Linked DNA regions of Homo sapiens: region 2 is linked to region 1. The links come from fine-mapping of genetic effects on gene expression. A gene starts in region 1. The other region holds a variant in brackets. All regions are shown on one strand. Distances are from middle to middle.

Evidence for each region. PIP is the estimated chance that this variant, and not a neighbour inherited with it, causes the effect. A credible set is the group of variants that fine-mapping cannot tell apart.
Region 2: its variant is the best candidate, but not a certain one, in a credible set for the expression of MTMR1 in ovary (GTEx, PIP 0.81).

The regions. Positions count from the first base shown.
Region 1 is chrX:150,684,216-150,700,926 of GRCh38, forward strand. It overlaps MTMR1 (myotubularin related protein 1), which reads left to right and starts at 9,181. Exons shown (of 16, transcript NM_001306144.3): 1 at 9,181-9,461; 2 at 14,980-15,085. The coding sequence starts at 9,316. RefSeq lists silencers at 9,112-9,181, 9,492-9,631 and enhancers at 10,525-10,624, 10,645-10,724.
Region 2 is chrX:151,027,122-151,043,832 of GRCh38, forward strand. No RefSeq gene overlaps it. Among named protein-coding and RNA genes, the nearest start is that of HMGB3, 52 kb to the left of the region's middle. The variant T/A (reference allele first, on the strand shown) is at 9,291.

The DNA.
Region 1 (16,711 bases):
TATAAGAAATGCTAAAGGGAGTTCTTCAATCTGAGAGAAAAGGATATTAATGAGCAATAAGGGATTATCTAAAGGTACAAAACTCACTGGTAATAGCACAAAGAAAAACACAGAATATTATAAGACTGTGTGGTGTGTAAAACACTCAAGTAGAAAGACTAAACAATGAATAAATCAAAAATAATAACTGTAACTTTTCAAGACATAGGCAATACAATAAGGCAAAGGGAAACAATAGAAAGTTTAAAAACAGGCAGATAAAGTTAAAATGTAGAGTTTTTATTAGTTCTCTTTTTGCTTGTTTGTTTATTTGTTTATGCAATCAGTGCTAAGTTCTCATCAGCTTAAAATAATGGATTATCACATAGTATTTGCAAGCCTCATGGTAACCTCAAATGTAAAAATATACAACAAATACGCAAAATGTAAAAAAAGCAAGAAATTAAATCATACCACCAGAGAAAATCACCTTCACTTAAAGGAAAGAAGGAAGGAAGACAGGAAAGAAGGAAGAAAACACCACAAAACAAACAGCAAACAAATTACAAAATGACAAGAGTAGTCCTCACTTATCGATAATAACATTGAATGCAAATGGACTAAACTCTGTAATCAAAAGACATAGAGTGACTGAATGGATGAAAAAACAAGACCCTACAAGAAACTATTGCTTACAAGAAACACACTTCACCTATAAAGATACACAAAGATTGAAAATAAAGAATGGAAAATATAGTCCATGCTCCTGCTTCTCCAATGGACTCAAAATCTCATCCAAGAAAAGCATTTATCTTTCTCATCCCTAAACACATCTGCACACCTCTCCTAAGACCTGATGGTTACTGTCTATAAATTTCAGCCTCTAATTACATCAAGTCAATTACTATGCTATTTCAGACTTAGAGAAATGGATAATCCATATATAATATCTGATGTTTTAACTTATATTTGAATGTGAATATCTCTAGCGTTTGAAAAATCTCTAACATTCAAACAAGAGTGTTAAAACTCTGCGCTGAAGGCCTTACAAAGCAGTCCAGCTTTGGAGTCCAGGTCTCCTGCTGCCCAGTCCACCCTAGGGCTGCAAAGCATCACTGCCCAAGCCCAGACTGAGTTGACGGCTGTCTGCATAGGTGGCAAAGAGACTGTGTGTTTTTCTCCCCACTTTTGGTGAGCCCCATGTGGTGGTGCTCAGGATGAAAAGGATCCCCCTAACTCCAGCTGACATCTACTTGGCAAGCAGGGCAATGGAAGGCTTCAACATTGGTTCTCAAAGATGGAGCCTCATGTACACAGTCCTTACTTGGCAGTCATATGTTATGGTCCTGGCACACAACAATGGCAACAAGAACAATGGCAACAACAACAACAACAGTGGGTCTCGGTTTTGTTTTCATTTTATTGGTCCATGCAACTCAAAACCTGTGACTAGGTGGTCTGAACTCACTGTCTCTCTTTTTGCCCTCCCAGACATTTCTGTCCCTTGGGAGTGCTCTCAGCAGAGTCCACACCACCTCCTTGCAGTCAAATCCAGGGAACACTTCTTTGTCTTACCAGATGTCCCAGCAACACTTGACACTCTGGATCACTCTTTCCATCTTAGAACTCTTGACTTTCTTGGCTCCCATGCCCCCTCTGCCCTGACTCTTTGCTTGTCTCTGCCAACCCCCCGAGCTCTTCCCGGGCCGCTCTTCTTTCACCTGCCCTGTCAGTGCCAATGATCTAGTATGTCTCCTTGGCTCACTTGTCTTCTCATTTTACATGTTTTCCCCAGGCAAATTTACACATTCTCATCAGGGCCAACTTCATGGGTGTTTGGCCTGTGCACTCACACAGGGCCCCATGCTTAGAAAGGCCCCATTCCTGATTCAATGCTTTCCTATCACCATCTGGAAATTTGTAATACTTTTGAACAAGGTACCCTGCATTTTTCATTTTGCCCTGGGCCCTACACATTACACAGCTAGCCAGTTCTGCCTCTCGAGGTTTTACACCTTTAGGCTGAAATCTGTAGCCCGGCCTTTCTCCTGGGCACCAGACCCATCTACCCCGTCACTCCTGGACATGTTACAGGCTCTTCCACTTCAAATAGCTTCTCTTTCTTTTTTTATTCTTTATTTTTATTTTTTAATCTCAGGGACTGGCATCACTTTCCACCCAGGCACCCAAGGTCAAGATTGATTCTGAAGACAATGTTCTTCCTTTGACTTCATTGACAACCTCATCTCCTGGACCTCCTCCTATTTTGGACTCTTCTCCCTCCTTTGCAGACCACTATATCTCAGCTGCTTGCTTAAATGTGGCTGCCTTAAGGGAATTTATCTGGGAGAAATTTATGTGTTTACTGAGTGGGGCAAAAAGTGTGTCTCTGAAATATGCTTGCCAGGTTGAGGCAAGTGGAGTCTCTGGAGCTTTGAGAGTATGAGGTCTCTGGACCGCAGTCTCTGTGTGAAGGTGAGCTTGACACTGCATTGTAGAGCACCTGTCATAAGACTGAGGATACAGGAATCTCAACATCAAAGAATGGTGGAGATGATGGGGGTGGTGAAGGCAAAAGCCTCCCGAGGCATCCTTTAGCCTTGCCAATAATTGAACTTGTGGCTGAGAACCTTCCAGATAACTTCTAAAGGCAAAGTTAAGTCATCTGTGGTGCTTTTTCTGTAGTTTATTGTTTTAGTCCATTTTCTGTTGCTTACAACAGAAGACCTGAAACTAGATAATTTATAAAGAAAATAAATTTTTTCTTACAATTCTGGAGGCTGAGAAGTCATAGGTCAGGGGGCCGTATCTGGTGAGAGCCTTCTTCCTGGTGGGAACGCTGTTGCATCCCAAGGCAGTGCAGGGCCTCATATGGTGAGGAAGCTAGGCGTACTTGCTCAGGCCTCTCTTCCTCTTCTTGTAAAGCCACCAATTCCACTCCCATGATAATCCACTAACCCATTCATAAGGGCAGAAGCCCTGCTCTTTTGAGCTGACACTACAAACCCTCCAAATGATGGGAACATTTCTCTGCAGTGCAGTCACATGTAATTCCATTGAGGATTAGCTTTGCTCAGTCCTAGCAAAATTATGTTTTTGAGAAATTTATTTTACAAGGGACGATCAGGTCCACTTTCATTTGCTTAATTTGTTTTCAAGAAATGAAAGTGATGATCCCAACCGTAGTTTCCAAATCGTGAAGCTGAAGGTTAAATTACAAAGAGTTCCTCTGTCCTCAAATTTTACGAAAATTAGCCAACTTTTTATTACCTCTCTTTCCTGAGTTCCTTTCCAACTGTCTACTGGACATCTCCACTTGGATACCCATAGGTACCCCCCAAGACTGCTATGCATTGTTGCACAGGTTGTGAAGTGCACAAGGGGGCCACATCTAAGGGGGACTGCTATGGTCTGAATGTCCCCAGTATTCACTTGTTGAAATTTGATCCCCATGGTGGTGGTGTTAAGAGTTGGGGCCTGCTGGGAAGTGATTAAGTCATGAGGGCTTGTCCTCATGAATGAGATTCAGTGCCCTTATAAAAGGGCTTAACAGAAGGTGTTCACCCTTTTACCTTCTGCCATGTGAGGACACAGCGTTTCTCCTCTCTGAAGAATGTAGCAACAAAGGCATCATTTTGGAAGCAGAGAGACCAGGCCCAGACCAGCGAGAGGTTTGATGTTTCACATCCCAGCCTCCAGAACTTGTGAGAAATAAATATCTATTGTTATCTATTGTTTCTAAATTACCCAGTCTGTGGTATTTTGTTGTAGCAGCACAAACAGACTAAGACAGGGATCCTTCAGAATGAGGTCCACATAGATTTCTAGGTCTATTATGGCAGTCTCTTGGCATATGGCAGCCAAAGGTTGAGCTTTAACAAAATTGGTTATACTATGACAATTTTATGACTAACAGAAGTCCAGTGTTGTTAGGAAGGGTTTTCTTTTTTCTAATATACACAAAGGCAACTTATGGGCTTGGACTTAGGGTGGGTCAAGCTCAACATGTCTAGAATGAATTCATCCTGGTCACTGACCTCTCCCACCTGCTTGTCATCTTGGATTCCTTTTATCAGTGGCTAATATCTCCTTTACCCAGTTTTCCAAGTCTGAAACCTCAGTGCCAGGCTTGGCCCACGTTGGCATCTCCTTCCCTCCTCACTTCATGTCCAACATTCCATCAGTCACTGAGTCCTGTCCAATGTTAGGGTTCATGCATCAGGTCTTCCTTGATTATGACAACAACTTCTTAACTGACCTTCTCACGGCCACTCTTGCCCCTCCAGTCCATCCTCCATCATGCAATCCTAGTGATCTTTCTGGAGTGGAAATATGATCAGTTCACCCCTTTCCAAGATCTTGCTGTGGCTCCTTGTCACCTCTAACAGGGTTTCTCAAAGTGTGGTCCTCAAACCATGTATATCAGAATCACTTGAGGTGCTTTATCAAATGTGGATTCTTAGCACCCACCCTAGCTAACTACTAAATTTTCAGATTCTCTGTGGTGAAGCTCATGAATCTGCACATTAATTGATGTCCCAAGTCATTTTCATGCGTGTAATTTTGAAAACTACTACTTTCTACATAAACATGGCATAAACATGCATAAACATGTCACAAACATGCAGCATACTCATATACATTTCCCACTTCCCCAGCAGGAACTGCAGAGTGCAGCTGGGCATTCAAAGGAGGCCTTTCCTGTTTCCTGGTGAGCATCACCACGGGCCTGAGAAGTCACTCTTCACCTTGCCTCCCACCACACAACTCCAGCTCCAGGTGGCATACAAAAACCATGTGCCTGTCCTCTTAGAGTGATTTCTAGGAATGCAGTATAGTCAGCCCAGCAACTATGACTAGACCCCCATGTGGGCAGAAGGGGGTGGTAGGGCCTGTGTGTGTTTGGAGACAATTCACCATGACTATCTCCGGTTTCAGCATGGTCAGGGTTCTCTGAGGAAATACATTTACAGCCACGTTAGTAAAGTTGGTATGAGGAGACATTCCAATCCAGGGTAGTAAATGTAAATCTCCACAAAGGACATTTGTTTACATCTGATCATTCATTCCAAGGTAACGAGTAATCTCTCTCCCTGCAGGGGAGAATGGGTAGGTCACTAGTAGCCAGAGTTTCCTGCGTTGGGGTTTTCTCTCCTGTGGTGTATCCCATTACATGTGCAGATACTATCTAGCCTCCTATTGGTCAAAGGCAGTTACAGGCCAGCCCCCATTCAAAAGGAGGGGAAATAGGTACCACCTGTTTTTGTTTTGTTTTGTTTCGTTTTGTTTGAGACGGAGTCTCGCACTGTCGCCCAGGCTGGAGTGCAGTGGCAGGATCTCAGCTCACTGCAACCTCTGCCTCCTGGGTTCAAGCGATTCTCCTACCTCAGCCTCCCAAGTAGCTGGGATTATAGGCATGTGCCACCACGCCCGGCTAATTTTTGTATTTTTAGTAGAGATGGGCTTTCGCCACGTTGGCCAGGCTGGTCTTGAACTCCTGACCTCAGGTGATCTGCCCACCTCGGCCTCCCAAAGTGCTAGGATTACAGGCGTGAGCCACCACGCCCAGCCGATACCACCTCTTAATGTAAGAGTGGCAAGGTTGCACTGCAGAACAGCATGCCACCCTGTAGAGACTGGGGTTCAGGATGCAGATCCAAGATATTGCTGTGGCTGCTGATTTTGCTGTGAATAATAAACTGTCTTTGTTTCGGATCCAGAGGCTTTATATTTTCTCTCAGAGTGTTAGAGTGTGGTGATCAACTAAATTTTCAGCTTGCTAGTAGGGTAAAATCTTAGATTATAACAGCTTCTGACCTACTACTGTGGAGTACCCTCCTTGGAGTGTGGCTGTGATTTGTGCATGGATTCCTATAGCTGAATGGGGAAGGGAGCTGAGCAGGTAGGGGATTACTTCTCTGGATCATTCATCAAGAGCAATGCTTGGGTGCTCTATTGCTGCACAAAAAATCACCCCAAAACCTAGTGGCTTAAAACCATAATTCATTAGTTTTCAAAAATCTGTGAGTCAATTGTATGATTCATCAGCTTCATGTGGTGTTGGCTAGGCCACCAGAATGACTGAAAGGCTTGAAATGGCCTCACTCACATAGCTGGCAGTTAGTGCTGGCTTCTGGCCATGCTGCCTGGGGAACTCAGCTAGGGCTATTGGCTGAGAGCTTTGGTTCTCTTCCATATGGGCCTCTCCCTGTGGCTGCTTGGGCTTCCTCAGAGTATGGCAGCTGACTTCCAAGAAGGAGTATGCACAGAAAGCAAACTGGAAGTTGCAAATCCCTTAAGGGTTAGCCTTGGAAATTATACAGCATCACCTCTGCTACATTCTATTGGTCAAAGGGGTTACAGGGCCAGTCCACATTCAAGGAGAAGGTAAACAGAATCCACCTCTTGATGTATGAGTGGTAAGATCACCTTGCAAAAGAGTGTGTGGGATGGGGGATATTATTGCAGCAGTCTTTGGAAGCACAATCTATCAAATGGACGTAGATGGGGGACTATACAATAGTATTTCTCCAAGTGCAGCAAGCCCCGCATCAGAATCATGGGAGCATTTGCTGAAAATGCAGACTGGGGCTGATTCTTGCACACTAACATTTGAGATCTGGTGAGCTGCAGAACAAAGCCCAAACTTCTTGGCCTACCACCAGTCCAGATCCTCACTTATCTTGTCTGACTTTATGCTCCAGTAACACTCGATTTCTTGGCATTCTCTTGCACATAATAAGCTATTTAACCTACAGATAGAGTTTGGATGTTTGTGCCGTCCAAATCTCATGTTGAAATGTGAGCCCTAATGTTGGAGTTGGGGCTGAGTAAGGGGTGTCTGGGTTGCAAACTGGATTGTGAACATCCTGAAGGTGGACCCCTCAGGAAAGGCTTTGTGCCCTCCCCGTGGTAATGAGTGAATCCTCGTTCTATGAGTTCATGCAAGAGCTGGTCGTTTGAAAGAGTCTGGTGCCTCCCTCACCTTTCACTTGCTCCTTCTCTCACCATTTGACATGCCTGTTTCCTCTTCGCCTTCCACCATGATTGTAAGCTTGCTGAGGCCCTTACCAGAAGCAGATGCCAGCACAATGCTTCTTGTACGGTCTGCAGAACTGTGAGCCAAAATAAACTTCTTTTCTTTATAAATTACCAGGTCTCTGGTATTCCTTTACAGCAAAGCAAAACAGATTAATATACCTACTAATCCACACCTTTGCCCATAACTGTGCCTTCTGCCTGGAATAACTTGACTCCTTTGCCTCATCAAGGATTTACTCATCTTTAAAGATTCAGTTTTATGTCACCTTTTTGGGGAAGTTTTCCTGACCTCCTCTTCTCCTATGGATTGGGGTAGGTGTTCCACATCCTGTGCAATTGTCCCCATTATAGCACTTGCCAACTTGTAATGTCATTGTTAATTTGTCTGTCCCCTTCACTGGATTGTGAACATCTTAGGCAGGGATATGTCAGATTCATCTCTGTCCTCTAAATCCTAAGTGTACTTAACTGAATTGGAAGTATGACAGTGTCACAGTGAATTCCTCTTTGGCCTAATGTTTCTTAAAGAATATGGTACTTAAAATATGCTTAAAGTTGCACTGTTTTCTTTCTGACAATTCTCAGCACAGCTAAGATGCTTGCAGCTACTTGTAACAAAATACCCAACTAAAAGTGGGTGTCTTAGTGTGCTTAGGCTGCCAAAACAAAATACCATAGACTGGGTGGCTTAAACAACAGAAATTTTCTCACAACTCTGGAGGCTGGAAAGTCCAAGATTAAGTGTCCAGCAGGGACCTAGTAAGGGCTCTGTTCCTGGCTTGCAGATGGCCACCTTCTTGCTGTGTACTCACACGGCCTTTTCTCAGTGTGTGCATGTGAGTGCATGAGATCAAGCTCTCTGGTGACCCTTCTTAAAAAGCACCAGTTCCATCAGACTAGAGCTTGGCCCTCATGACCTAATTGCCTCTCAAAGACCCCATCTCCAAATACCATCACACAGGGAATTAGGGCTTCAACATATGGACTTCAGGGGGATGAAAACATTCAGTCCATAACAGTGGGTTAACCATTTGATTTAATAATTTTAGAAAGCCAGCAACCTGCAGTCGGTGATTCTCCAGTGTGAGATAGGAGCTATTATTGTCTGGGGATCTTCCTTTCCTTCCTCCTAGCCCTCCTCACTCTGTCATCTTCTTACCCCAGGCTCACCTCCTCTTGTGCGTAAGATGGCTGTCGGGGCTTCAGGCATCATATCCTCAAAGTTCAGTTTGAAGTTATTAAGCTGGTGGGGCAGGATGGGTCTGGGATGGGCATGAGTAACTCCCTGTCTGCAGATCTGCCTTTTAACAGTGAGCAAATTGTTCCCTTTATATCTTCTTTTCCAGACCTGGGTCGCAGGCCTCCTGTCTACACCCAGAGCAATCACAGGCAAAGAGGCTTAATCACGAGCCACACACCCACTCCCAACTTAATCAGGGGTGAGGTGAGAGGGGATGAGCTGTTGGATATTCGAACCCAAACAAAATGAGCAAGGAAATAAATCTAGCCCAGAAAGCAAATGTCCTAAATGCCTCACCAAGATATTGGCTTGATGTTCATAGCAGTGATTTTTTAATCAACAGAAGTTAAATGTTACTCTTAACATAAACCATGGGCGGAAGCTCCGAGGGCGGCATCAGAACACTTGGTTGCCCTACAGATGGCAAGGGGGTGGGTTTGTGGCGGGGCGGCGGGGTGCGTATGGAGGGGGAGAGTGGAGGGAAGAATGGGGTGGGGAGGAATTGCTAAAATGCACGGAATTGCTCCTGCTTCAAGATGTCAAGACCGAGGGAGCTTGAGCTGTTCTATACCTTTTCCGGGAAGGACAACTGAGGTGGGAAATCATTTTTGATACTTGAATGTCTTCAAACTTCTTTTTACACCCCACGTCTCTGCAGTCAACCCGGTGTGACTATAGAGTGAAGCACGCTACGCATAATCCGTTTGGGGATTCCGAACCCCAGTGGCTCTGTACGCACCCAGGTCGCTGGAGCAGGAGGTCCCAGATCCCCGCTGTAAGGCTCCGTGGGCGAGCGCCCAGGTGGGGCTGGGCGAGGTGGGGGTTCCCGGCGCCGGCCCCGCGCGCCGCCCTCCCCGCCCCCGCTCCCGCCCCCCGACCCCCGCGCGCGCGGCCTTGTGGGTAACGCGGGGCCGCCAGGTGACAGCTAATGGCGGCGGCCGCCTGAGGCGGGCGGGCGGTATAGAGCGGGCGGCAGGAGGCAAGCAGCGAAACCTTCCCGGCCGCCGCTCCCGTCCCGACGGCGGCTTCCCCAAGGCGGCAGGACTCGGCGCGCCATGGACAGGCCGGCGGCGGCGGCGGCGGCGGGCTGCGAGGGCGGCGGGGGCCCGAACCCGGGGCCGGCGGGCGGCAGGAGGCCTCCTCGGGCCGCGGGGGGCGCCACCGCCGGCTCCCGGCAGCCCAGCGTGGAGACCCTGGACAGGTAAGCGGGGCCCGGGCTGCCCCGGCCTCCCGCGCCCCGACTCCCGAGGGCCCCGCGCGAGGCCAGCCCGCCCCCTCCCCGCGCGCTGCGCAGGGCCTGGCGGTGGCGGGGTGGGCGGCCCCTCTTCATCCCCTCTGGGCCCTCCTCCCCCCCACCCCCGGAAACCTCAGCGCCCCATCCGGGGACTGCTGCCCTCGGACCTGCTGCGGGCCGCGCACCTGGCTCACTTCCGCCCCGAGAGCCCCAGCTCCTGGAACCCCGGGAGGGGCTTCGCAGCTGTCAAACCACTTCCGGCGCCGCCACCTGCTGCCCTTGGCGATCGCTTGGCTGTCCCTGCCCAGGCCACCAATCCTCTTGGGAGGGAGATCCCACCCGGGCTCTCCTCTTCTAGCATCACCTTGCCTCGTGTGGTTTTAAGACCCCAATTCTGCTGTGGCTGCTTAGGGTCTTTGATGGGGGGTTGGGAGTGAGGACGGGGAGATGGGACCCCGCGGGCGTGGGAGCTGGTGCAGATCGAGGCAAAAATCTGAGATGGAAAACGTCCAAACTGCTCAGGAGGCAAGAAAACAGAACCATTTACTTTCAGTTCTTCACACTTTGAGGGAACCAGTTTATTGTTTTCATGAACACACAAGCAAGCCTACTGCTTCTGAGGCAGCTGCAGAACTAAGAGAAATCAGTTAGAAACATAAAGTGACCGTGTCGAACTGGGAGGGGCCACCGCCTCCTCCGACGACAAGAGATGGCCTATCGTGTAACCCGGAACATCCAGTTTTCCCACAACTTGGCCATTTCCCTGACACCAGAGTGCACTCAGGCAGCATGCACTGTTGGAATGTAGCTCAGTCAGTTTTACATGCCCATTCCTGCCTGTCTTGGTCATCCCATTGTGCCAAACTTTTGGGAGTTTCCAAAAGCACAGAAACAAGAAACATTCCCTTCACTTTTGTTTCTACCTCAGTGTAATTACAATATATTTTAATAAATTAATCACCCAAGTGGTTAGTGTCACTGAAAACCAGTCACAGCTAAGACAGCACTTGAAATGGTGAGGACTTCACTCATCTGCAAATATTCAACCACACACGAGGTCTGGGCGATTCAGAGAATAGCACAACACGGCTTTTGCTGCCTTACCATTTTGCTAGACTTACCATCTAGTGGAGAATACAAACCAACCAACAGTGGAAATCGAATGTGATAAATGAGATAGGTGGTAGAGGCGAACACAGAAGTACTCAGGATGGGCATGCATCAGAATCATTTAAGAAGCCAAAGGAGACCAGAATGTGTCACCCCCAAATATGCCTCATCTTCTGGTTTCCTTCAGAGATTTTGATGATCAGGGAAAGCCTGAGAAAGCTGACATTTGAGTAATGCCCCCAAAGAGGCGAGGGATCCAGCCATACAGATACCTGGGGGTGATAGTATTCTAGTCAGAGGCCTGTGCAAAGCCCCTGAGGTGAATGTGAGCCAAGTGTTCCTAGATCAGCGAGGAGACTAGGTGTCACTAGCAGGGAGGGAGCTAGGGAGAGACAAGTAAGGGATGACGTTAGAGAAGTCACAGAGCCAGATGGTGGAGAGCCTCAGAGGCCATGGGGAGCCACTGGGGACTTTGTGCAGAGGAGTGACATCATCTGTTGTAGATTTCAGTAGGCTCTCCATGGTGCTATGTGGACAATAGAGTGAAAGGGGAAGGAGCTGAAGCAGAGACTGTCAGTAGGAGGCTATTGTAGTAAGCCAAGTGAGATGGTGGTCCAGAGTGGAGCGGAGGAGGGGAGAAGTGGTCAGATACTACATGTAATTTGAAGACCTGCAGGGTAGAGCCAATGGGGTTTGCTGAAGATTGGTTGGTTGGTATGAGAGAAGAATCTGGGAGAATTCCAAAATTTTAGCTTGTGGGAAAATTGTGTTGCTGAGATGGAGAAGTCTTTCTAAGGTGGAGCAGGGTTAGAAAATAGCAGGCTCTTCGCTCTGGACATATCAATTTTGAGATGCCAATTATATGTCCCAGAATAGATGTCAAAGATATAGTTGATCTATCTGAGCCTGGAGTTCAGGGTTGTCTGGGCTGGAGATTCAAACTGGGGAGTCATGGGCTTATAGATGAGGCTTAAATTCATGAGGCAGGTGGAGTTCACAGAAGAATGATGGAGGTCTGGAAAAGGGAATTGGGCTAGGAATAGGGCTGGGTGGATTTTCAAGATGCTTACCAGGTAAGAGTGACCCGACATGGTGAGCATTCAGATGTGAGGGGGGAGTGCCGGGTGGACTCCAAGGCAAACCTCAGCTTTCTAGCGTGTGGGGGCCGGATAACTGGCTGTGCTGCGCCCTGAGTTAGGAAACACAGGAGCAGAGTAGGTTGCGGGGCTGAGCGGCTGATGCTGGTTTAGACAGGTTGAATTGGCAGGGTCTCTGGGCCAGACTAGTGGACAGGTCTTGTAGGAACATCAGCATTGAGATCAGGAGAGTCCAGGTTGGAGAAACAGAGCTGGGAGCCTCCAGCCTGTAAGTAGTTATTGACACCAGGAGTATAGAGGGCAATTGCACAGACTACAGAGAAGGGATGGGGGAGGAATCATGGCCTCCTTTCTCAGTTCTGTCAGCTCAACAAGCTCAGATTCACACTTTTCTTTGAAGAGTGACCTCTAGAATGGAACCTGGCTCTATGGGTGGGACTTGGCCATGTCCCTGGGACTATGGGGCCTTCACTTCTCTTCTGAATACTGTAATTAATAATGAGGAAGCTGTGGTCCTGTAAGAGGATGTGTCTTGCCAAAGATCATGGAGTTAGCTGGTGACAGAAGCAGGACTCATGTCCAGGCCTCCTGTCTGCTAACCCACTGTGCTTCACTGTGTGTAACTACATTGGCCAGGATGCTTCTGGTTGCAGGTGACAGAAACCACAGTTCAATCTAGCTTAAGGCAAATGAGATGCCCTGGCTCACAGAACTGCTCCAGACAGGAGGAGAGATGGCCACAGGCACAGTTGAGGTCAGGATTGCAAACAGTGTTGTCGGGACTCCCCATCTCTCTCTCCCTCTCTCTTTTATTTTCCCTCACTTTTTAATCGCTGTGAGTTCCTTAAGATGGTAGGGGTGGGGTGGGGTGGGGAGTGGCCTCCAGCAGCTCTGGATACAGATCCATGTATTTCAGGATCCAAGGGGAAAAGTCTGGGATTGGCTGGTCCTAGGTAACTCACCTACAAGTGGGAGCAGGTGGAGGAAGGGGTCAACCTTCTTCTCCGCTTTCCCCCACAGAAGCCTGTGTTGTGGGGAAGGGCAGTTCCCAAAGTAAAGAGGAAGGTCTTTATCAGAAGAAGGGGGAAGGCATGCCGGGCAGGCAGGTGGTAATAGCAGGTCACACTCATGCTCAGCAGTTGGGTTTCTGCAGTTTCTTCCTGTATTTGCAACTGGTGGGTGCTGACAGAAAAAGGCATTATGACAAGAAAAGTATGATATACGTGGGAATGAAAGTGACTTAACCTTTAAAAAGGAAACAAATCTCTCCCTTTTCTCTCCTTCTCCCCCTCAGGTCGAAATTGTGGTATATAGATTCCTGGCATGTGATAGGAATTTCTGCTCATTCAGTATTTTCAACCATACAGATAACCTCTGGTCTGTTTTGATCAGAGACTGCAATTTGGATCACTAGCACAGAACTTCAGTTTTCTTTCTTTTACTATTTGGGTCATTTTCCATATTGCCTGGGGATTCCAGGTGTTTCTGTCCTTCAGATATGTGAGTGTGGGTTTAATTAGTGATATGATTTTTTTTTTAAAGGCCTGAAACATTCTTTACAGTGAAAGCTACCTGCAAGGTAAACTTTTGTCGGTGTTTTTAGCCCTCTAGCTTGATTTCTTAGTGTTTTGCCAAATTGTGAGAGGAACCCGGCCTCTGGGGGCAATTGTTAAATCTCTTACTGCGCTAGTTGGCTTATGTGGTCTTTCAGGTCAGGTGAGTACAGCCTGACCACTTGCCAGTCGTGTGACCTTGGGCAAAACTGGACCTTAATTTTTTCATCTGTAAAATGGGTCACTGTGAGGCTGGGCAAGGCTACGTGTGTGAAAATGCTTTGATGCCTCAGAGCTCTGTGGGAGTGAAAGATGACATTTTCTTTGCATTGCTGTGTTTTCATGTAAAGCGGTTGGCTCGCATCTGTGCTGCTGGCTTCAGTGCAGTGAGTCAGTCGCTATTGGTTGTTCCATGTCCTGTTGAGGACAGCCACTTTCTCACAGGGCATGTCACCTCTGTGCCTCGATTTTCTCTCCTCAAAGACAAGTCGGCTAGTCCCTGTTCTGCCTTCTCATCACACCATGGTTGTGAGGCTCTGATATAATAAAAACCATTTGTGCTTGTAATCCCAGCACTTTGGGAGGCCAAGGCGGGTGGATCACCTGAGGTCAGGAGTTCAAGACCAGCCTGGCCAACATGGTGAAAACCCGTCTCTACTAAAAATACAAAAATTAGCCAGGCATGGTGGCATGCGCCTAAATAATCCTAGCTACTAGGGAGGCTGAGGCAGGAGAATTGCTTGAACCCAGAAGGGCAAAGTTTGCAGTGAGCCGAGATCGCGCCACTGCACTCCAGCCTGGGTGACAGAGCAAGACTCTGTCTCAAAAAAAAAAATAAATAAAAAATAAAAACCATTTGTAAGTTGTCAAAGCACTTATAGAAGTGTAAGGTATTGTTAGTACTACACAGAGAACATCATTTTTCTAGGCTGTAATTTATAAATCTCATGTTCAGCTTTACTTTTCTGAGTCACTTTGCTTCACTCAAAAGTACACTATTTTCTAGATTTAAAACTACCAACATGAAATTGATTGAATGTTTGAAAAGCCTATGCTGTAAGATAAATATTTCACATATTTCTCCCGGCTGGGTGTGGTGGCTCATGCCTGTAATCCTAGCACTTTGGGAGGCTAAGGCGGGTGGGTCACTCGAGCCCAGGAATTCGAGACTAGCCTGGGAAACATGGCAAAACCCTGTCTACACGCGCGCGCACACACACACACACACACACACACACACACACACACACACACACAAAAGCCGGGCCTGGTGGCATGTGCCTGTAGTCCCAGCTACATAGGAGGCTGAGGTGGGAGGATCACTTGAACCTGGGAGGTTGCAGTGAGCTGAGATTGCACCACTGCACTCCAGCCTGGGTGACAGAGTGAGACCCCATCTCACAAAAAAAAAAAGAAGTATTTCTTCCATATAATTTTAATAGAGTAAAATTCCATTAAATGGTAGAGAATAGTAAGCTTAACTAACACCTAGAATCTTCAACTTTGTTTGAGAAAATTGGGTGATTCATTTAAAATTAACCTGGAATCTAATCTTATTTCCTAGTTGTCAGTCGCTATTTCAGTTCTTACATAAAATGTGAAGGTAACCAAAGAGTCTAGTTAGTTCATCTAAAAAAAGAAGTGTTATCATATTCCTATTCAGTGCTAATTTTTTCACTGAGATCCTATGATATAACGTTTTGTAATCCATGCTATTTTTTTTAGTCCCACAGGATCACATGTTGAATGGTGTAAACAGCTTATAGCTGCTACAATTTCTAGTCAGATTTCAGGTTCAGTGACATCAGAAAATGTGTCCAGAGATTACAAGGTAAGCAACATTGAGTGTTTAATTCATTTTCAGTATGCTAAGTAGCCAAGAAGCTTTGCAGTTTTAATTCAAGTGAGCTGTTGGCCTTTTGATGCAACATGGCCATTTGCTCGAGAATAAGGATGAAAGGTTCTCTGTTGTTAGATCTGAAATGTAGAAGAGAAATTTTACCAGTATCCAGTACATGTAGTCATAGTTTTGTAATTGAAAGGAGAAGCTGTCTTTAGATGACAATGATTCTTTTAAAAATCAAGTTCCATTTTATAATAATAAATGCATATAGCTTCTTTGTTAGTATTGTGAGTTTCAGGAAATATCTTGATGTACAATACTTCCCTAACTTCACAATTTTTTAATTTATGTATTATCTGTGAGTATTCAGCATTAACATGTGATACTAGAATGTATAAAAACCCTTCCAGAATCTCAAAAGAGTATTGTATGGGCAGCCTCATTTTTCAGTCCTTACTGAAGTGAAAATCTCTTTTTGTTCATTTTAAAAGTTAGATTCCCTGCTTATTCTAAATTTAAGTGATAAGCTCCTTGTCAGCAGAGACTAGGGCAGTTTTACCACTGGCTTCCCAGGCACAATCCTGGAGCATAACAGTTGCTCAATAAATATTGAATCAATTAACAAATCAAAAAAATCGCTTGTTCCATCTTTGTTAAGGCTAAAGACTAACTTTGTTTTAATGTCAATAAACTATTAATAGGTATATTAAATGAAATCACATTTATATTTCAGTACTGATGTTTGCCTAAGTTGAGGTTTCTGTTTATTAGTGGTCATTTTTCCTGCTAGTAAGAGATGATTGATTTTTCACAAGTGTGTGTAAAATGCATTTGGTATCCCAGACTACCATTAGTTAATAGTCTCTCAATATCATGGTCCTTGCCAGACATCAAATCTTACAAATATCAAGAATTACAGTAAAGATCCTAATTAATTCTTAATAGGTACTCCTTGTTTAGGAGCTTTATCTTCAGTTCCTCTTTAGAGCTCATAGGGTAATAACAAGTGCAGAAACAGGCTCAGGAGGCCAATTAATTGAGATTTGGCTATGGTGCTGTCTCTTGCCTCATCCAAACTGGCAGATGCTGTTGATTATGCCTACCAAAGGAAGGCATAGCTGTGGATTAGCAGAAATTGGATAATCTGCCCAGCTAGAAGAGTGACAGTGTATTTCTTAATCATTTTTCCTGCTATGTGGTGTTCATGTTTGCCCATAAAAGAGCAGCTGGGGCTCCTGGACCTTAAAACCTGGTCGGGCAAACACACTGTCTCCAGGTGGGAGAAGCATTTGCTGCATCACTGATGCGTGAATGGCTGGTCACTGAGCAGCTGCGGATCGCATCAGTTCCAGTTGCCCTATTGCCTGCACCTTAGCTGAGAAACTGCCCGCTGAGTAGAGAGACTTAAGAACCCATTTTAGCAGAGAATAGCTCTCACACTTCGGGGTGATTTTCTTTATGGACAATTATGAGTTAACTGTAATGTTTTCATTAAGGTTGAATAGTTGTTAGTGTTGTGTGTGTCCTATAAAAGATTGAATGTCGACTGTGTGCATAGCTTTCTAACATTGCATGAATAGATCAGACTGAATCTGTACTTTAACATGAAGCAAC
Region 2 (16,711 bases), 340 kb after region 1:
ATCCTATATCTCTATCTGTGCCTGTATCCGTGTATATTTATATCTGTGTCTCTACCTGTTTCTACATCTGTGTTTCTATCTCTATCTGTGCCTCTCTGCCTGTGTCTATGTCTCTATCTGTATCTGTGTATTTGTCTCTACCTGTTTCTGTATCTGTGACTCTTCCTGTACCTCTGTCTGCACTTGTATCTCTACTATGGCTCTACATATATCTTTATCTGTGCACCTACACCTGTATCTGTATCTGTGTCTCTTATTATTTTTGTTTTCAACACGTATCTCTATCTCTATCTGTATTGCTGTCTCTACCTCTATCTCATTTGTATCTGTGTATCTACTTGTACCTCTTTCTGTGCCTATATCTGTGTTTCTATTTGTATCTGTGCCTCTCTCTGTATCTGTATCTGTTTCTCTATATTTATCTGTATATGCATCTCTACTTGTATCTGTCTGCATCCATTACTGTGACTAGACTTCTATCTCTGTTTGTGTATTTGTGTCTCTACTTAACGTCTCTCTCTGTATCTGCATCTTATCTTTATCTGTATACGCATCTGTATCTGTGTTTCTGCTTGCATCTCTATCTGTATCTACATTTCTGTGTGTCTTGTCTGTGTCTCTTCCTATATCTACACCTGTATCTGTGTCTTATCAGTACCTGTATCTGTGTGTCTCTACCTCTTTCTATACTTGTTTGGTAAAAAGACTAGGAGGATGTTCAGAAAAATATTAGTAGTGGCTATTTCTTTAGTCTTGCTCTGTAGCCAGGCTGGAGTGCAGTGGTGTGATCTTGGCTCACTGCAACTTCCATCTCCTGGGTTCCAGCGATTCTCCTGCCTCAGCCTCCCAAGTAGCTGAGACTATAGGCATGCACCACCACACCCAGCTAATTTTTGTATTCTTAGTAGAGATGAGGTTTCACCATGTTGGCCAGGATGGTCTCGACCTCTTGACCTTGTGATCCGCCCGCCTCAGCCTCCCAAAATGCTGGGATGACAGGCGTGAGCCACCGCGCCTGGCCGTAATAGTGGTTATTTCTGGATTCCAGGATTATGGATGATTTTTCATTTCATTCTTATACCTTCTATCTCACCAAGTTTTCTACATCAAAAAATTACTTAAATTTTTATTTTGTTACTATTTTGAAACACTTTTTTTGTTTAGTTAGTTTAAAGACAAAAAAGAGGTAGGCCTGCAGATTTGATAGACAGGCCAGCAAATACAGTTGGGAAGGAGTGGGATAGTCTTAAGCTTGTGTTCCTAGGAGCCCCCGAAGTTCAGTGTGAGGTGCTTTAGGCCTTCAAACTACCCTCACTCAATTCCAATGGGACAGGCTCTGAGTTCATCTTCTGCCACCATGTAACATTTTGTTTAGAGAAAGGGCTTTATGGCTAAAAAAAAAGTTTGGAAAGTGCTGCAGTAGGGAATGCCATCGGGGAAATGAGCTTAGACCAAATTTTGGGATCATGTCCCAGATGTCAGTGAATATAATCGGACTGGCAGCATTTAGTGCTCACCACTCCACACAGGCTGGTTGCAAAAAGTCTTTACTCAAGTCTCTATTTACTTAAGATTTTTCACTGGCTGAGCTAGCTGAACCCAGCTCAGAGGGACTCAATCCCTCTGGCTGAAAGAGACTTTGGTTCTACACATTACGAAGCTTCAGCCTAGGACAATAATGCTGTTAAAATGTATCCTACTGATGGCTGGGCGCAGTGGCTCATGCCTGTAATCTCAGCACTTTGGGAGGCTGAGGTGGGCGGATTACCTGAGGTCAGGAGTTTAAGACCAGCCTGGCCAACATGGTGAAACCCCATCTCTACTGAAAATATAAAAATTAGCCGGGTGTGGTAACACATGCCTGTAATCTCAGCTACTACTTGGGAGGCTGCAGTGGGAGAATTGCTTGAAGTAGGGAGGCGGAGGTTGCAGTGAGCCGAGACTGCGGCTGAGATTGCGCCACTACACTCCAGGCTGGGTGACAGAGCGAGACTCCATTTAAAAAAAAAAAAAAAAAAAAAAAGAAAGAAAAAAGAAAAAAAGTATCCTACTGAGAATCCATTGGTATCATTGTGTTTATACTTTGTCTCAGTAAAACTATCTCTGTCAAACTCCATCCGTTTCTCCCTAGGTGAGCTCCATTGTGGCTACAAATAGGTCCCAAGAATGTTATGGGGACATATGGACAGAGGGACAAACAAGCAGAGAGGAAAGATGATGTGGAGACATAGGGAGAATGAATGCCAACTCTGTGCCAAGGAACACTTAAGGCTGCCAGAGGGTAGAAGAGAGGGCTGGAACAGGTTCTCCCTCACAGCTCAGCTCTCAGAAGGAACTCAATCTCCCAACACCTTGATCTTGAATTTGTAGCCTCCAGAACTGTTAGACAATACATTTCTGTTGTTTAAGCTGCCTGGTCCTTGGCATTTTTGTTATGGCACTCCAGGCAAACTAATACAGGACCCAAGCATCTCTGCTGGGGAGAGCAGATCATAGGCTACGATCACTACGAGCACTGTCTAGACCAGCACAGTCCAGTAGAAATATAATGCGAGCCACATGTGTAATTTTAAATTTCTTACTAGCTAGATTTAAAAGTAAAACAAAAAACAAAAACTGGAAAAGGGTGGAATTAATTTTAGCAATATATTTTATTTAACTCATTATTTGCAACATGTAATCATTTCAAGACATAATATAAAATTATTTTTAGTCTTTGAAATCCAGTGTGTTTTTTTTTTTCTACATCTCAATTGGGACTAACCCAGTTTTAAATGCTCTATGAACACAAGGGGCTTGTGGCTCCTGGATTGGCCAGCATGAGTTTGCAGCCTAGGTCCCTGCAGTGGACCTGTGCATGGAGTGCCCTCAGACTTACTTCACCGGCAGCCAGTCAACACCAAATCGAAATGAGACTGGACCTGACTTATAAATATGCAGATCAGTATTAGAAAGACACATTTTCTTGAGTAGTAATTCCCAGGCAAACAGCTCTTCAACCTACACTGACTTGAGGCAGATCCCTGATATCCCCGCTTCCACCTGGCATTTAGCTCTCCCAAGCCATTGGATACCTCGGATATATATGCCCACCTTGGTGTGTGCCTCAAATGCTGTTCAGACTATGGCTGCTGATGGCTTCTGTGAAGGAGAATCCTGCAACATGCTCCATGTTTGTTGAGGGCTCCAGTATCCTTCATTTCTCAGTATGAACACTTGATTCTGTCCTCAATGCTCTCCCTCACCACCTACCTGCCATGGTGCTTTCCTGGCTCCCTTCAGTAAAACATACCTGCTGGGCACTGCTCAACCTTCCAGCACTGCCTTCCTTCCCACCTACAATTTCAGCTTCCTTTCTGGTTTTACTTTTTGGATTTCAGGGAGCTCAACTCACAGCGTTTCTCTTCCTCACTGGAGCCTGCAAGCAGTTGAGACCTAAAACAAAGAAGAAAGGCACAGATAGACTCTCCTTACCTCCTCCCTTACCTGTAGGCTTCCTGTCTGGCCAAGGGCAGTGTAGAGAAAGTGGGAAATGGAAGAAGGAGCTGGCCTACCAATGCCTAGTTTCTCCTTTCAAACGTACCCACCACCTCACTTACTTATTATTGTTTGTGGTGAAACATTTGAAATTTACTCTTAGTTATTTTGAAGCATACAATGCACTATTATGGGCTATAGCCACCCTGCTGTGCAATTGATTTAATCATTCCACATTGCATACATATGTCAAAACACCACTTTGAACCCCATAAATGTATACAATTAGGATTTGTCAATTTAAGAATCATATTAGTGAAAAAAATTAAAAAGTTACAAACTTGTCTATCATATAAGGCAACTTCTCCTCTCTGAGGAGGAGGAAGTGGGTGTTCTCCTTGCCCCAACATGACTCAATCACTGAAGCTCTTGAAATGACACCAGAAAATTGCTGTTGCTATGTAGTACTCTATCCTGGACCTATGTGCAAGAATCAGACAACAGTCTTAGAAACCTATGTGTCATCTCAGGGGTGCCAAGGTACATGACAAATGGAAACTTGTTTGTCAGCAGTTGCTCTGTCCTGCTGATATGGTGGTAGAGGGGCATATGTCTATCAATGTGGTGGGCTAATGTGGGGATGGAGTGGCAGAGACCCTGCACCCCTCAGTTCTAGTAGGAGGCACTGGCTGTTCCTCCTCTATGTGGCTCCACTCTAGGCATTCTTTCCACTTTCAACAGTTATTATTTGAGTGTGTAGGTGCCAGGCACTGTGCTGGGTACTCAGGGTTGGCAATGAATGAGAAGATGTTAACTTATTCAATCAACACTATTAATTGGAAGCCTACTATGTGCCAGGCACTGTTCAGGGCTGGTGCATGGTGGTCAATATGACAGATGGAGTTCCTGCCCTGCAGTGGGTAATGTGGGAGGAAAATAAACAAGTAAGTAAACAGATGTACCAGATGATGTCAAAGTGAGTAATGGATACTAAGGAAATGAGGCAGAATAATGTGATAGAATGAGGAGGAAGTCGCTATTTTAGAGTGGGAAGTCAAGAGAGCCCTTTCTAGAAAGGTGGCATTTGAATTGAACTCTGAATGATCAGAGGGAATGATCAGAGGGAGGCAGAGAGTGGATGACTAATTCGAGTGTTCAACGTAAATGCAGCAGCAGGTGAAGAGGCCCGGAGATGGGAACTAACTTGATATGTTTAGGGAAGGGAAATATAGTAGTAGACAATGAATTGAACTGTGAATAACCAGAGGGAGGCAGAGAGTGGATGACTAATGCGAGTGTTAAACGTAAATACAGCAGCAGGTGAAGAGGCCCCGAGATGGGAACTAGCCTGGTATGTTTAGGGAAGAGAAAGATAGTAGTAAGAAATGAGGCTGCAGGGAAGGCAGAGGCCTGGCCATGCTTGGCATTGGAGGCCATGTTTAGGGGCCATGGAAGACCTGAGTATACACTGAATAAATGGCAGCTAATGTAGAATTTCTGCATCTCAGTCCACAAATTTTGGGCTACCAGGAAGGTCTCATTAAAATAATTCTTTAAATCAATTTATATTCAACTCACAATACCAGGATGGCAGAAAATTCTATTTCAGTCACTAATGGGGCTTCATCCCAAGATCATGCCAAAGTCTAGAGGTGTTCTCAAAGTCCAAAAGCCAGTGGTGGCTCTTGTAACTTTGGTCTATAGTGGTTCCAGCTGGGATGTCTTTTGTTCAAACTCTCAAGGTCCCCTGATTCCAGCCTATGCTTGATAATCTTTGCCTAGTCTGGGGACCTACTTAGTCTGCCCACATCTCCAGCTGCCATGGGAACTTGGAAACACTCTGAAAACTGCATGAAGGGCTACAAAGTTTGCCTATGAACACTGCTGCGAATTTCACTACTATTTCTCATTGAATTAGTTTTCTAAGGCTGCTGTAACAAAGCACTGCGAACTAAATGGCTTAAACAGCAGAAATTAATTTCCTCACAGTTATGGAGGCTGCAAGTCCAAGACCAAGGTGTGGGCAGGGTTGGGGTTCTTTCTGAGAGCTGTGAGAGAGAATCTGTTTCAGGCCCCTCCCCTAGCTTCTGGGGGTTTGTTGACAATCTTTGGCATTCCTTGGTTTGTAGAATCATCATCTAATCTTTAATCCTCTGCCTTCATCTTCACATGGTGCTCTCCCTGTGTGTGTCTCTGTGTCCAAATTTCCTTCTTCTTCTTCTTTTTTGTTTTGAGACAGTCTTACACTATTGTCCAGTCTGGAGTGCAGATGCACAATCTTGGCTCACTGCAACTCTGCCTTCCGGGCTCAAGAGATCTTCCACCTGTTTCCTGAGTAGCTGGGATTACAGGTGTGTGCCACCACACCTGGCTAATTTTTGTATGTTTTGTAGAGATAGGATTTTGCCATGGTGCCCAGGCTGGTCTCAGACTCCTGAGCTCAAGTGATCCTCCTGCCTTGACCTCCCAAAGTGCTGGGATTACAAGCATGAGCCACTGCACCCAGCCCCAATTTCCATTGTTTATAAGGATATATCAATCATGTTGGATTAGAGGCCACTCTAATGACATCATCTTAACTAATTACAACAACCCTATTTCCAAAGCAGCACATCACATTCTGATGTACTGGGGGTCAGGATTTCATATGAATGGGGGTGGACACAATCCAACCCATTAACAATCATCTTATTTCTTCATTTCACTGCCCAGCTTGCTCCTGACCCCAGCCTTCAGGCTGACTCTGCTCTAGGCTTTCACGTGGGCCTGGTACAACTTGTTGAGAAGGTCAAAGTCATTATTTGGGGGAAAGTAGCTCCAGGGTAACCCCAAGGACAGGTCTGTGGGGCAAAAGTCTAGTGGAGGGCAGGTCTCTGTGAAGAGGTGCTCAATTATGGAGAAGTAGTGGCTCCTAGATCTGAAGCTGGAATTTGGGAGGATGGTGTGTCAGTCAGATTGGGCTAGGTAATGCTGCAGTAACAAGCAACCCTCAAATCTCAGTGCTAACTCAATAAGGCTTACTTCTCACTTTATTCTATGTATCCATTGCAAGTCATCTATCACCTGACTCAGGGCCCAGGCTGAGGGAGGTGCCATCCTCACCATACCTAATACATTTGTAGTGAAAAGAGAAAGACACACACACATGAGTGACACATCAGGAGCCTGGATTACTGCCCTGAGCAACTGGCAGCTATGAGAGGGCCACACTCTACAAGTGTCAGGGACAGCTATGCCAGATTGGCACAGAGAACTCTGAGGGTGAATGGGCCTTGTGCTAGGCAGTGGTGTCTGGGATAGCCTGCCTCTATCACCAGCTGCCTTCATGAGAGTGGTGCATGTCCGGCCCCAGCAAAGGAGAGAGAAAGGAGAAAGAGGAGGAGGAGAAGGAAGAGGAAAAGAAGAGAAAGGAGAAAGAGGAGGAGGAGAAGGAAGAGGAAAAGAAGAGAAAGAAGAAGAGGAGAAGGAGGAAGAAGAGGAAGGGGAGGAGTAAGACGATGACAATGGCAAATTTGAGCAAGCTGTCTAAACCTCTGTATGTGAGGAGAGAAAGTCATGCAGTACCACTCCTGGGGCTCAAGAGGAGGGAGAATCATCCCCTCTTGCCCTTTTCTGCCTTCTGCCATGTGAGAATGCAGCAAGAAGGCCCTCATCACATGCTGGTGCCTTTATCTTAGTCTTCCCAGCCTCCAGAACTATGAGAAATAAATTTCTGTTCTTCATAAATTACCCAGTCTTGTGTGTTCTGTTATAGCAGCACAAAATTGACTAAGCCAAGGACTCCACTCCCTGCCATCCCTGACCGCAGCTCTGGGACAGGATACTGCTCACTAACTCTTGGACAGTCATTCCAATACTCCCTCTAAAATATATGTCTTGAATTGGTCCACTTCTCTCCTTCCCCATGGCTGCTGCCCTAGTTCAAGTCACCATCATCTGTCACCCTTACTATGGCAGTAGCTTATTTCTGGTGTCCTGGCTCCAATCCTGCCCTTTATAATCCATTCTCTATATAGCAGCCAGAGTGAGCCTTTTGAAAATGTAACTTCAACTCATGTCACTCCTCTGCTTAAAATCATGCAATAGTATCTCTTTGTACTTAGAATAAAAGCAAACCTCCTTCCCGTGACCCACAAGGTCCTATAGGATCTGGCTGCTGCCCACCCCCAGCCTAATTTCCTGCCACTTTCCTTCACTTGCACGTACTCCAGTCACACTTTCCTGCCTCAGGGCCTTTGCACATATTCTTCCCTCTGCCTGGAATATCCTTCCCCTACTCTCCTCATGCCTGGCTTCTCATCCATTTGCATTTGGCTAAAATGTCCCTTCCTTTGAGAGATGGCTCCTTATTACCCTCTCTCAGTAGATGCCTCCTTCTCTCCATCCTCTGTCAGGGTACCCCATTCATTTCCCTCATGACACTTGGCACAGTTTTTGAATAAGTATTTCTTTGTTAATTTTTGTTCTCCCTTTAGACTATAAATTTCATGAGGGCAGAAACTATGCCTGCTTTATCCATCATTGTATCTCACAGCCTAGCACAGCTCTTGGCACATAGTAAGCCTTTAGCATATATTTGCTGAATGAGCAAATGAATGATTAAATAAATGAATGTATTTGTTTGAGTTTAGTTTCTAAGGATTTGTTTATTTCCTGGCACTGAAAAACAAGGTAGGAAGGTGAGAAGCATGTTGGAAAACTGAAACTGAATTCTAGTTCAAGATGGCCATTCCTGGAAGGTCAGATACATAAAACAGAGAATTATTTGGAGATCAGGGTGGAACTCAAGAAATATACCAAATATACTGGAACTCAAGAAATATACCAAACACACTGGAATATACCAAAGACAGTCCTAATCTTAGAAGGGCCGCAGGCCTTTTGGAGTATTTTTTGCTACTTCTGGTAATACTCATTGTCCATTGATGGCAAGTTCTGGGGCCATGAAGATGGTGCCAACACAGGCGTGACATGTTTGAGGCTGACTAGAGATGGCACTATATAAAAGGAAATGTATCTGGCTGTCCATAAGAATGTGATGACTTCGTGGAGAGACACAAAGTACTGAAAGTCTCTCTTGGCCAGATAGAAGTGTAGTGTATGCAGTCAGTGCTAGGATTATTAGCTCTAGCTTTCAGAAAAAGTAACTGAGGCTCAATTAAGTCCATTGTCCAAAGTCATTCTACTACTATGTAGAAGGCAGGCAGGCTGATCTTCCCCACTGGTCATTGTCCTGTGTTAGACTCTCAGTAGGTGGTGGGGGAAGGATTGGAGCCTAGAGCTTGTATCTGAGCAGCACTATCATTGGCAATGCAGATATAAATGTACCTGCTTTGTGATAAACTGTGGGAGGGTCTTAATCTCTGGCTGTGGTGAGTGGAGGTATTTACCTTGATAAAGGCCCCCAGATAATTCTGAGACACTCTCCGCCTTTCTAAGAGCACTTCCTCCAACCACCTGACCCCTTGAGAACCACTGCATTAGAAGGCACATGGGAAACAAGTTCTTAAGAAACTGACTTTCATTTAATGAGTTCATTACAAAGGCTGCCGAACATATTCCCAACTAGAGGTCAGTTACACCTACATTTCTCAAAGTCGCACAATCACTGACACTCGGGGTCATCAAGGTGACAGTGAGGCTTGCAAAATATGCAAATACCTTCTGAGTGATCAAAGGAAGAAGTTCTCTTTGGTGGAGTATTGGTGTTCTCTGTGCTTGGTATATTTCAGTTTTCTGGATTGAGCTCATCAAGGTCTGGGAATTCACAGTAATTCTGTTCGGCAGACACTTGCATTAACCAGAATATACAA[T/A]CCTATTTCCCTGGCCACTGCAAAGGTTTTATTGCAAATACAGTCCCTGAATTTCCCAAAGCTTTTTCACATATGAGCAACTTGGTTAGGACTCTATGCTTCAGTTTTACCAAGAGCTTGTTTGCTTTGAAAGGACTGCCACAAAAAATAAAAAATAAATAAAAGCAAAAATTTCTGTTGACTGTAAAACTGCTCAGTGAATGATTTTTACGTACACGTATGGACCAAGGAAGCAGGCTCTGGGCCCCTCTGCCTCCAACCACATTCCCAAAGTTCTCACGCTTGTAAAAGAAAAAAAACATGTTTGTTTCCCTTTGATTTTTATGGGACTGTAAAATAAATTAAATGAAAAAGCCTATAGCCTTAAACTACCCAAAAGTGGAAAATGGAAAATTCACAAGCCAAACTCCTGTGCATTGATTCCTGGAGGCTCTTCAGAATAACTCCAGTGGTCACATTTCGCTTTCACATTCAGCTTAAGTGGCACCTCCTCTAGGAAGTCTTTGAGCATCCCTGTTTCCTTATTAATTATACAGTTCATTCATCCATCTATCCATTCATTCAATAAGTACTTATTGTGGATCTACTATATAATATCAGGCACTGATGAAGGTGTTTTGTAAATAGGCAGATAATAAGGACAAAAACACACAAAATTCCCATCCCTCATGGAGCTGACGTTCTAGTTGGGGGATACTGACCATATAAACAAGATAAAGAAGTAGGGTCTATAGTACATTAGAAAGCGGTAAATGCTATGGATAAAAGTCACGCATGGAGAAGGCCAGCAGTGCCAGATGGTGAAAGTGGTGCTGTAATTTTGGACTTGAAGGAGGTGAGGGAGTGTGCTGTGTAGCTGTCTGGGAGATGTGTATTTTAGGCAGGGGAATGGCATGTGCAAGGGCCCTGAGGAGAACAGTGTGTATGAGGAACAGTAAAAAGATCTGTGGGCCTGCAATGGTGTGAGTGAAAGTAGAGCTGTAGGGAATGAGATCACATGATGATCTCCTCCACTGCAGCATAAACATGTTCCTCTTGCAGTGCGATCACACCTTATCATCATTATTGTTACAGTTCTTAGTTGGGTTTTCTGGGAAACAGATACTGAGGCGGAGTTGTGTGTGCTTTCGGGATCAATGCCTGGACAAGGGAAGGACAGGAAGCCCAGTGGGCAGAAGGAGCAGTTGAGCTGCAGTGAAGTCACAACAAGGATTTGGTCAACCCCAAGGGGAACTTTGGGGCTGGAATGGCTCTTCAGAGTCATTCAGAGCTGTGGAGAGGGGCTGGGCCATTATACCCCTCCTCTTCCCACATCAACCAGTCACTGGATGGAGCTGTCCCTTGAAGGGGATGTGACCTGGAGCTAGGCTACTCTTTTCAGCTGTGAACAATTCCTGCAAAAGCTGACACCAGAACAAGCTGACACTTGAGAATCAGCATTACCAGCAGTTAGAGAAATAGTGCTATTTCTCAGAATGGTGAGAAAGTAAATGTTTGTTGTTTAAACCACTTAGCCTATGGTATTTTTTTATGGCAGCCCTAGCAAACTCATACACCAGGCCTCCCAACTTGCAGGCTCATGCTCTCCCCTCAGCATGAATCACTATGGCTTGATATCCCTCAGAGAGATGCAAATCCCCTCATTGGAGGTTAGCTTGGTGTAGGGCCAAGAGCACTAACTTTGCAGTCAGAAAACCTAAGGACTTTCTCCTCCTCTACTTAACTGTGTGGCCTTGAATCAGTCACTTAATCTCACTGAGCTTCTATGTCCCCATCTGTTAATTGGAAGGAATGAAGAATGCTGTCTTCCTAAGGGCCCATTTGGTGTCTGGGAACTGCATTGGCACTTTCAAGGACCTGATAAGAATGTTGGAGAATCCAAGAAGACAGCGCCCTTTGTCATCATAATTCCAAACACTTGACCAGAGGATTAAGTTGTGTCAAGGGGGCCTGGCATGTAATTGGTGGTCCACATGCCTAATACATTTTTGGGGAAAAAGAGAAAAGCATGCACGAGTGACACATCAGGGGCCTGGATTACTTCCCTCAGCAACTGACAGCTATTTGAAGGCCACACCCTATAGGTGCCAGGGACAGCTATGCCAGGTTGGCACACAGAAACCTGAGGGTGAACGGGCTTTGTGTTAGCTGGTGGTGTCTGGGATAGCCTGCCTCTATCACTGGCTGCCTTCATGAGAGTGGTGCATGTCTCCTCTCTCTTCCTCTCTCGACAAGGGAGAGAAGAGGAGGAGGAAGAGGAGGAGGAGGAGGAAGAGGAGAAGATGGCAATGATAACAGCAACAAGCATGAGTAAGCCGCCTAAGCCTCTGAAGATGAGAAGCCGTAGTCATGTAGTGCCACTTCTGGGGCTCAAGAGGAGTGGGGATCATTAACCCTCTGAACCAGACAGAATGGGCAGGGATGCTGTATAATAATCATGATACTACTACTAAGATTATCCATTATTAGGGAGAGGAGACAGTACATCAAAAGCCATGGATTTTTCCCCTCAGGTTTGCAGGGCCAAAATCTTGCTCTCCCCAGTTCACCCTGAAGTTTGAGGTTCTGAATGGGAGTGAGATGGGGCAGTGACTCACTCTCCCTAAACTCTCAACTGACTGGCAGTTAGACTGTAAGCCAGCAGATCCATCTCTCTGTGGAGGAGATTGCTATACATCTCTCTATGGGAATACTAGATCTTGTTGGTTAGGGTTTTCCCTTCCCATTCAGGACATCTGAAAAATCAAATTATTCAGCACAAGTTTCTCAGGAACCAAGGGAGTTTGGCTGGTCTTGAAGGGTATATTGCTTCTGGCTAGAGGCCAATCTTAATAAATTCTCCCAGTTCCATAGCAAAGCTCTGAGAATTCACCTTGCTAGACATCAGAATCGGGGAGTCTCTTCTTCATAGCTACTGCTGAATTAGCATGAACACAATTTAACTAACTAGTGGACATATGCTTTGTTATTGGCTCAACACCCACTCCTTTGGGGAATCACCTCTCTTCAATCTATCATCTACTGGACGTCTGACCTTGGGCAAATTACTTAACCTCATCATGCTTTGGTTTCTCCATCCTTAAAGTGAGGCTAGTACAGTAGCCTCTCATTATCCATGAAGGATCTGTTCTAAGACCTCCAGTGGATATACCAGAAACTGCAGATCGTACTGAACCCTGTATATACCATGTTTTTTTTCCTATATATACATACTGATGGTAAAGTTTAATTTATAAATTAGGCACAGCAAGAGATTAAAAATAATAACTAATAATAAAATAGAACAATTATAACAATAAAAGTTATGTGAATGTTCTCTCTCCCTCTCTCTTTCAAAATATCTCCATACTTTCGGACTGTGGTTGACCATGGATAACTGAAACTGCTGAAAGCAAAACCAGAGATAAGTGGTGACCACTGCACTAGTGCCTACTTTATAGGGTTACCATGAGAAATAAGGGAGTTAATACATTAAGTGCTTGGAACTTACTAAGCACTCAATAGATATTAGTAGTAGTAGTATCATAATCATTGTATAGTATCCCTGCCCATTCCATGTGGTTCACAGGGTTTAATGATCTCCACTCCCTTCAGCCATAGGGGTAATATTGCATGACTCAGTCCTGGCCAAAAAGAGTACTTCATCTCAGGCAAAAGCAACATAAAAGTAAAACTCACATAGTCCCATATTTCTTGGAGGCTTTGTTCGTTTCTTTTTATTCTTTTTTCTCTAAACTTCTCTTCTCGCTTCATTTCATTAATTTGATCTTCAATCACTGATACCCTTTCTTCCACTTGATCGAATCAGCTACTGAAGCTTGTGCATGCGTCACATAGTTTTTGTGCCATGGTTTTCAGCTCCATCAGGTCATTTAAGGTCTTCTCTATGCTATTATTCTAGTTAGCCATTCATCCAATCTTTTTTCAAGGTTTTTAGCTTCTTTGCAATGGGTTCGAACATCCTCCTTTAGCTTGGAGAAGTTTGTTATTACTGATCTTCTGAAGCCTACTTCTGTCAACTCGTCAAAGTCATTCTCCATCCAGCTTTGTTCCGTTGCTGGTGAGGAGCTGCGATCCTTTGGAGGAGAAGAGGCACTCTGATTTTTAGAATTTTCAGCTTTTCTGCTCTGGTTTCTCCCCATCTTTGTGGTTTTATCTACCTTTGGTCTTTGATTATGGTGACCTACAGATGGGGTTTTGGTGTGGATGTCCTTTTTGTTGATGTTGATGCTATTCCTTTCTGTTTGTTAGTTTTCTTTCTAACAGTCATGACCCTCAGCTGCAGTCTGCTGGAGTTTGCTCCAGACCCTGTTTGCCTGGGTATCACCAGTGGAGGCTGCAGAACAGCAAATATTGCAGAACAGCAAATATTGCTGCCTGATCCTTCCTCTGGAAGCTTCGTCTCAGGGGGGCACCTGGCTGTATGAGATGTCAGTCAGCCCCTACTGGGAGGTGTCTCCCAGTTGGGCTACTCGAGGGTCAGGGACCCACTTGAGGAGGCAGTCCGTCTGTTCTCAGATCTCAAACTTTGTGCAGGGAGAACCACTACTCACTTCAAATCTGTCAGACAGGGAGGTTTAAGTCTGTAGAAGTTTCTGCTGCCTTTTGTTCAGTTATGCCCTGCTCCCAGAGGTGGAGTCTACAGAGGCAGGCAGGCCTCCTTGAGCTGTGGTGGGTTCCACCCAGTTCGAGCTTCCCAGCCACTTTGTTTACCTACTCAAGCCTCAGCAATGGCAGATGCCCCTCCCCCAGCCTCACTGCTGTCTCACAGTTCGATCTCAGACTGCTGTGCTAGCAGTGAGTGAGGCTCCGTGGGTGTGGGACCCTCTGAGCCAGGTGTGGGATATAATCTCCTGATGTGCTGTTTGCTAAGACCGTTGGAAAAGTGCAGTATTAGGGTGGGAGTGTCCCGATTTTCCGGGTACCATCTGTCCCAGCTTCCCTTGGCTAGGAAAGGGAATTTCCCGACCCCTTGAGCTTACTGGGTGAGGCAATGCCCCACCCTACTTTGGCTCACACTCCGTGGGCTGCACCCACTTTCCAACAAGTCCCAGTGAGATGAACCTGGTACCTCAGTTGGAAATGCAGAAATCACCCGTCTTCTGCGTCACTCAGGCTGGGAGCTGTGGACTGGAGCTGCTCTTATTCGGCCATCTTGGGATCGCCCCCCCAAGAAAATCTCTTTTTTTCTAATAAATGCTTTTAATGCTATAAATTTACCTCTAAGAACTGCTTTCACTGCATCCCACAGATTTTGATACGTTTTCATTTAGTTCAAAATATTTAAAAATTTCTCTGAGACTTTGACCCATGTGTTATTTATAAGTATGTTGTTTAATCTAAAAAATATTTGGCAGTTTTGTAGCTAGCTTTCTTTTTTTTGATTTCCAGTTTAATTCCACTGTGGTATATGAACATACTTATATGATTTCTACTCTTTTAAAATTCTAAGGTGAGTTTTATAGCCCAGAATGTGGTCTATCTTGGTAAATTTACCATGTGAACTTGAGAAGAATGTGCATTTTGTGGTTGTTGGATAGAGTATTTTATAACTATCGGTTGTATCAAGTTGATTGAGAGTGCTGTTCAGGTCATCTATACTCCTGCTGATTTTCTACCTGTTGGATTTATCAATTACTGACAGACAGGTATTGATGCCTCCAACTATTGTTATGGTTTTGTCTACTTATCTTTTCAGCTCGATCAGTTTTGGCCCTATAAAATAACTGCTCTTATTTGCAGATGGCATGATTGTTTATGTTGACAATCTCAGAGAATCAATTTAAAAAGCCACAACTCGGCCGGGCGCGGTGGCTCACGCCTGTAATCCCAGCACTTTGGGAGGCCGAGGCAGGTGGATCACGAGGTAAGGAGATGGAGACCATCCTGGCTAACACAGTGAAACTTCGTCTCTACTAAAAATACAAAAAATTAGCCGGGCGAGGAGGCAGGCGCCTTTAGTCCCAGCTATTCCGGAGGCTGAGGCAGGAGAATGGCGTGAACCCCGGGGGGCGGAGCCTGCAGTGAGCCGAGATGGCGCCACTGCACTCCAGCCTGGGCAACAGCGAGACTCCGTCTCAAAAAAAAAAAAAAAAAAAAAAAAAAAGCCACAACTCTTGGATCACGAGGTCAGCAGATCGAGACCATCCTGGCTAACGCGGTGAAACCCCGTCTCTACTAAAAATACAAGAAAAATTAGCCGGGCGTGGTGGCGGGCGCCTGTAGTCCCAGCTACTCAGGAGGCTGAGGCAGGAGAATGGCGTGAACCCGGGAGGGGGAGCTTGCAGTGAGCCGAGACTGCGCCGCTGCACTCCAGCCTGGGCGACAGAGCGAGACTCCGTCTCAAAAAAAAAAAAAAAAAGCCACAACTCTTACAATTGGGAGGTGAATTCAACACTGTCTTAGGATACAAGATCAAAATACAAAAATAAATTGATTTTAATATACTAGCAATGAACATGTGGCAACTGAAAATAAAAAATACAATACCATTTTAAATTGCTCAAAAAATGAAATATTTGGATGCCCTCAAAGGAGCTTGCAGTGTGCTTATATAGCGTTCTGTGCTGTGGCCCAGCATGAAAACATGAGCCTGACTCATCAGTTCCTCTAAGGAACTTGAGCTGGAAAACGTCTGAAGGATGAGGTAGCAAGCAGTGAGAGCAGAAGTTGAAAGTCCCTGAGGTCAAGAGAGGTCAGAGGAGCCATGAGATGTAATGTACCTATGGCAAGTTCTGAGGAGGCTGAAGCTATCAGGAAGCATGAACCATGAGAGTCCAAAAGCCATGAAGTAGATGAGAAGTGGAGAGTAGAGGGTGAAGAAGTCAGTTTGTCACAAAATCTACGGGCAACGGATGCAGAGCAGCTGGCCCACATTGGTGGTCCCAGCGAAGATCCATAGAGTCTTTGGTTCTCATTTATGTGCATTGCAGTAGTCATAACAATTTAGATAAATAATGGAAATCCAATTCAAACTAACTTAAGCACAAAAAAAATTTATCAGCTCATTAAACTGAGAAGTCCATTGGTTGAGTTGACTTTAGGGGCTCAATATTGCCAGGGCTTTGCTTCTCCTTTCTTTTGTTGGGTCTATTTTCTTGTCACATTTCTACTTTATTCTGTAAATAATTTATTTCTTTTGTAGACATCTAGTAACAACTTAAAGTTGATTAACAATTATTAAAGTTAATTGTTAATTAACTTTAAGTCGATGTTATTGATTGTGGTGCTATCAGAGAGAGATCTCCAAGGATGCACTTCTCTAGAAAGACTCTCATTGGCCCAGCTTCAGTCATGTGTTCACCCCTAGACCAATTACTCTGGCTGGGGGAATGGATTATCCCTATTAGCCAGTCTGGGATATGACTGACCACTCCCCTCAGGGCCACATAGATTGAGAGGACTAATTCCTTAATGGAGAA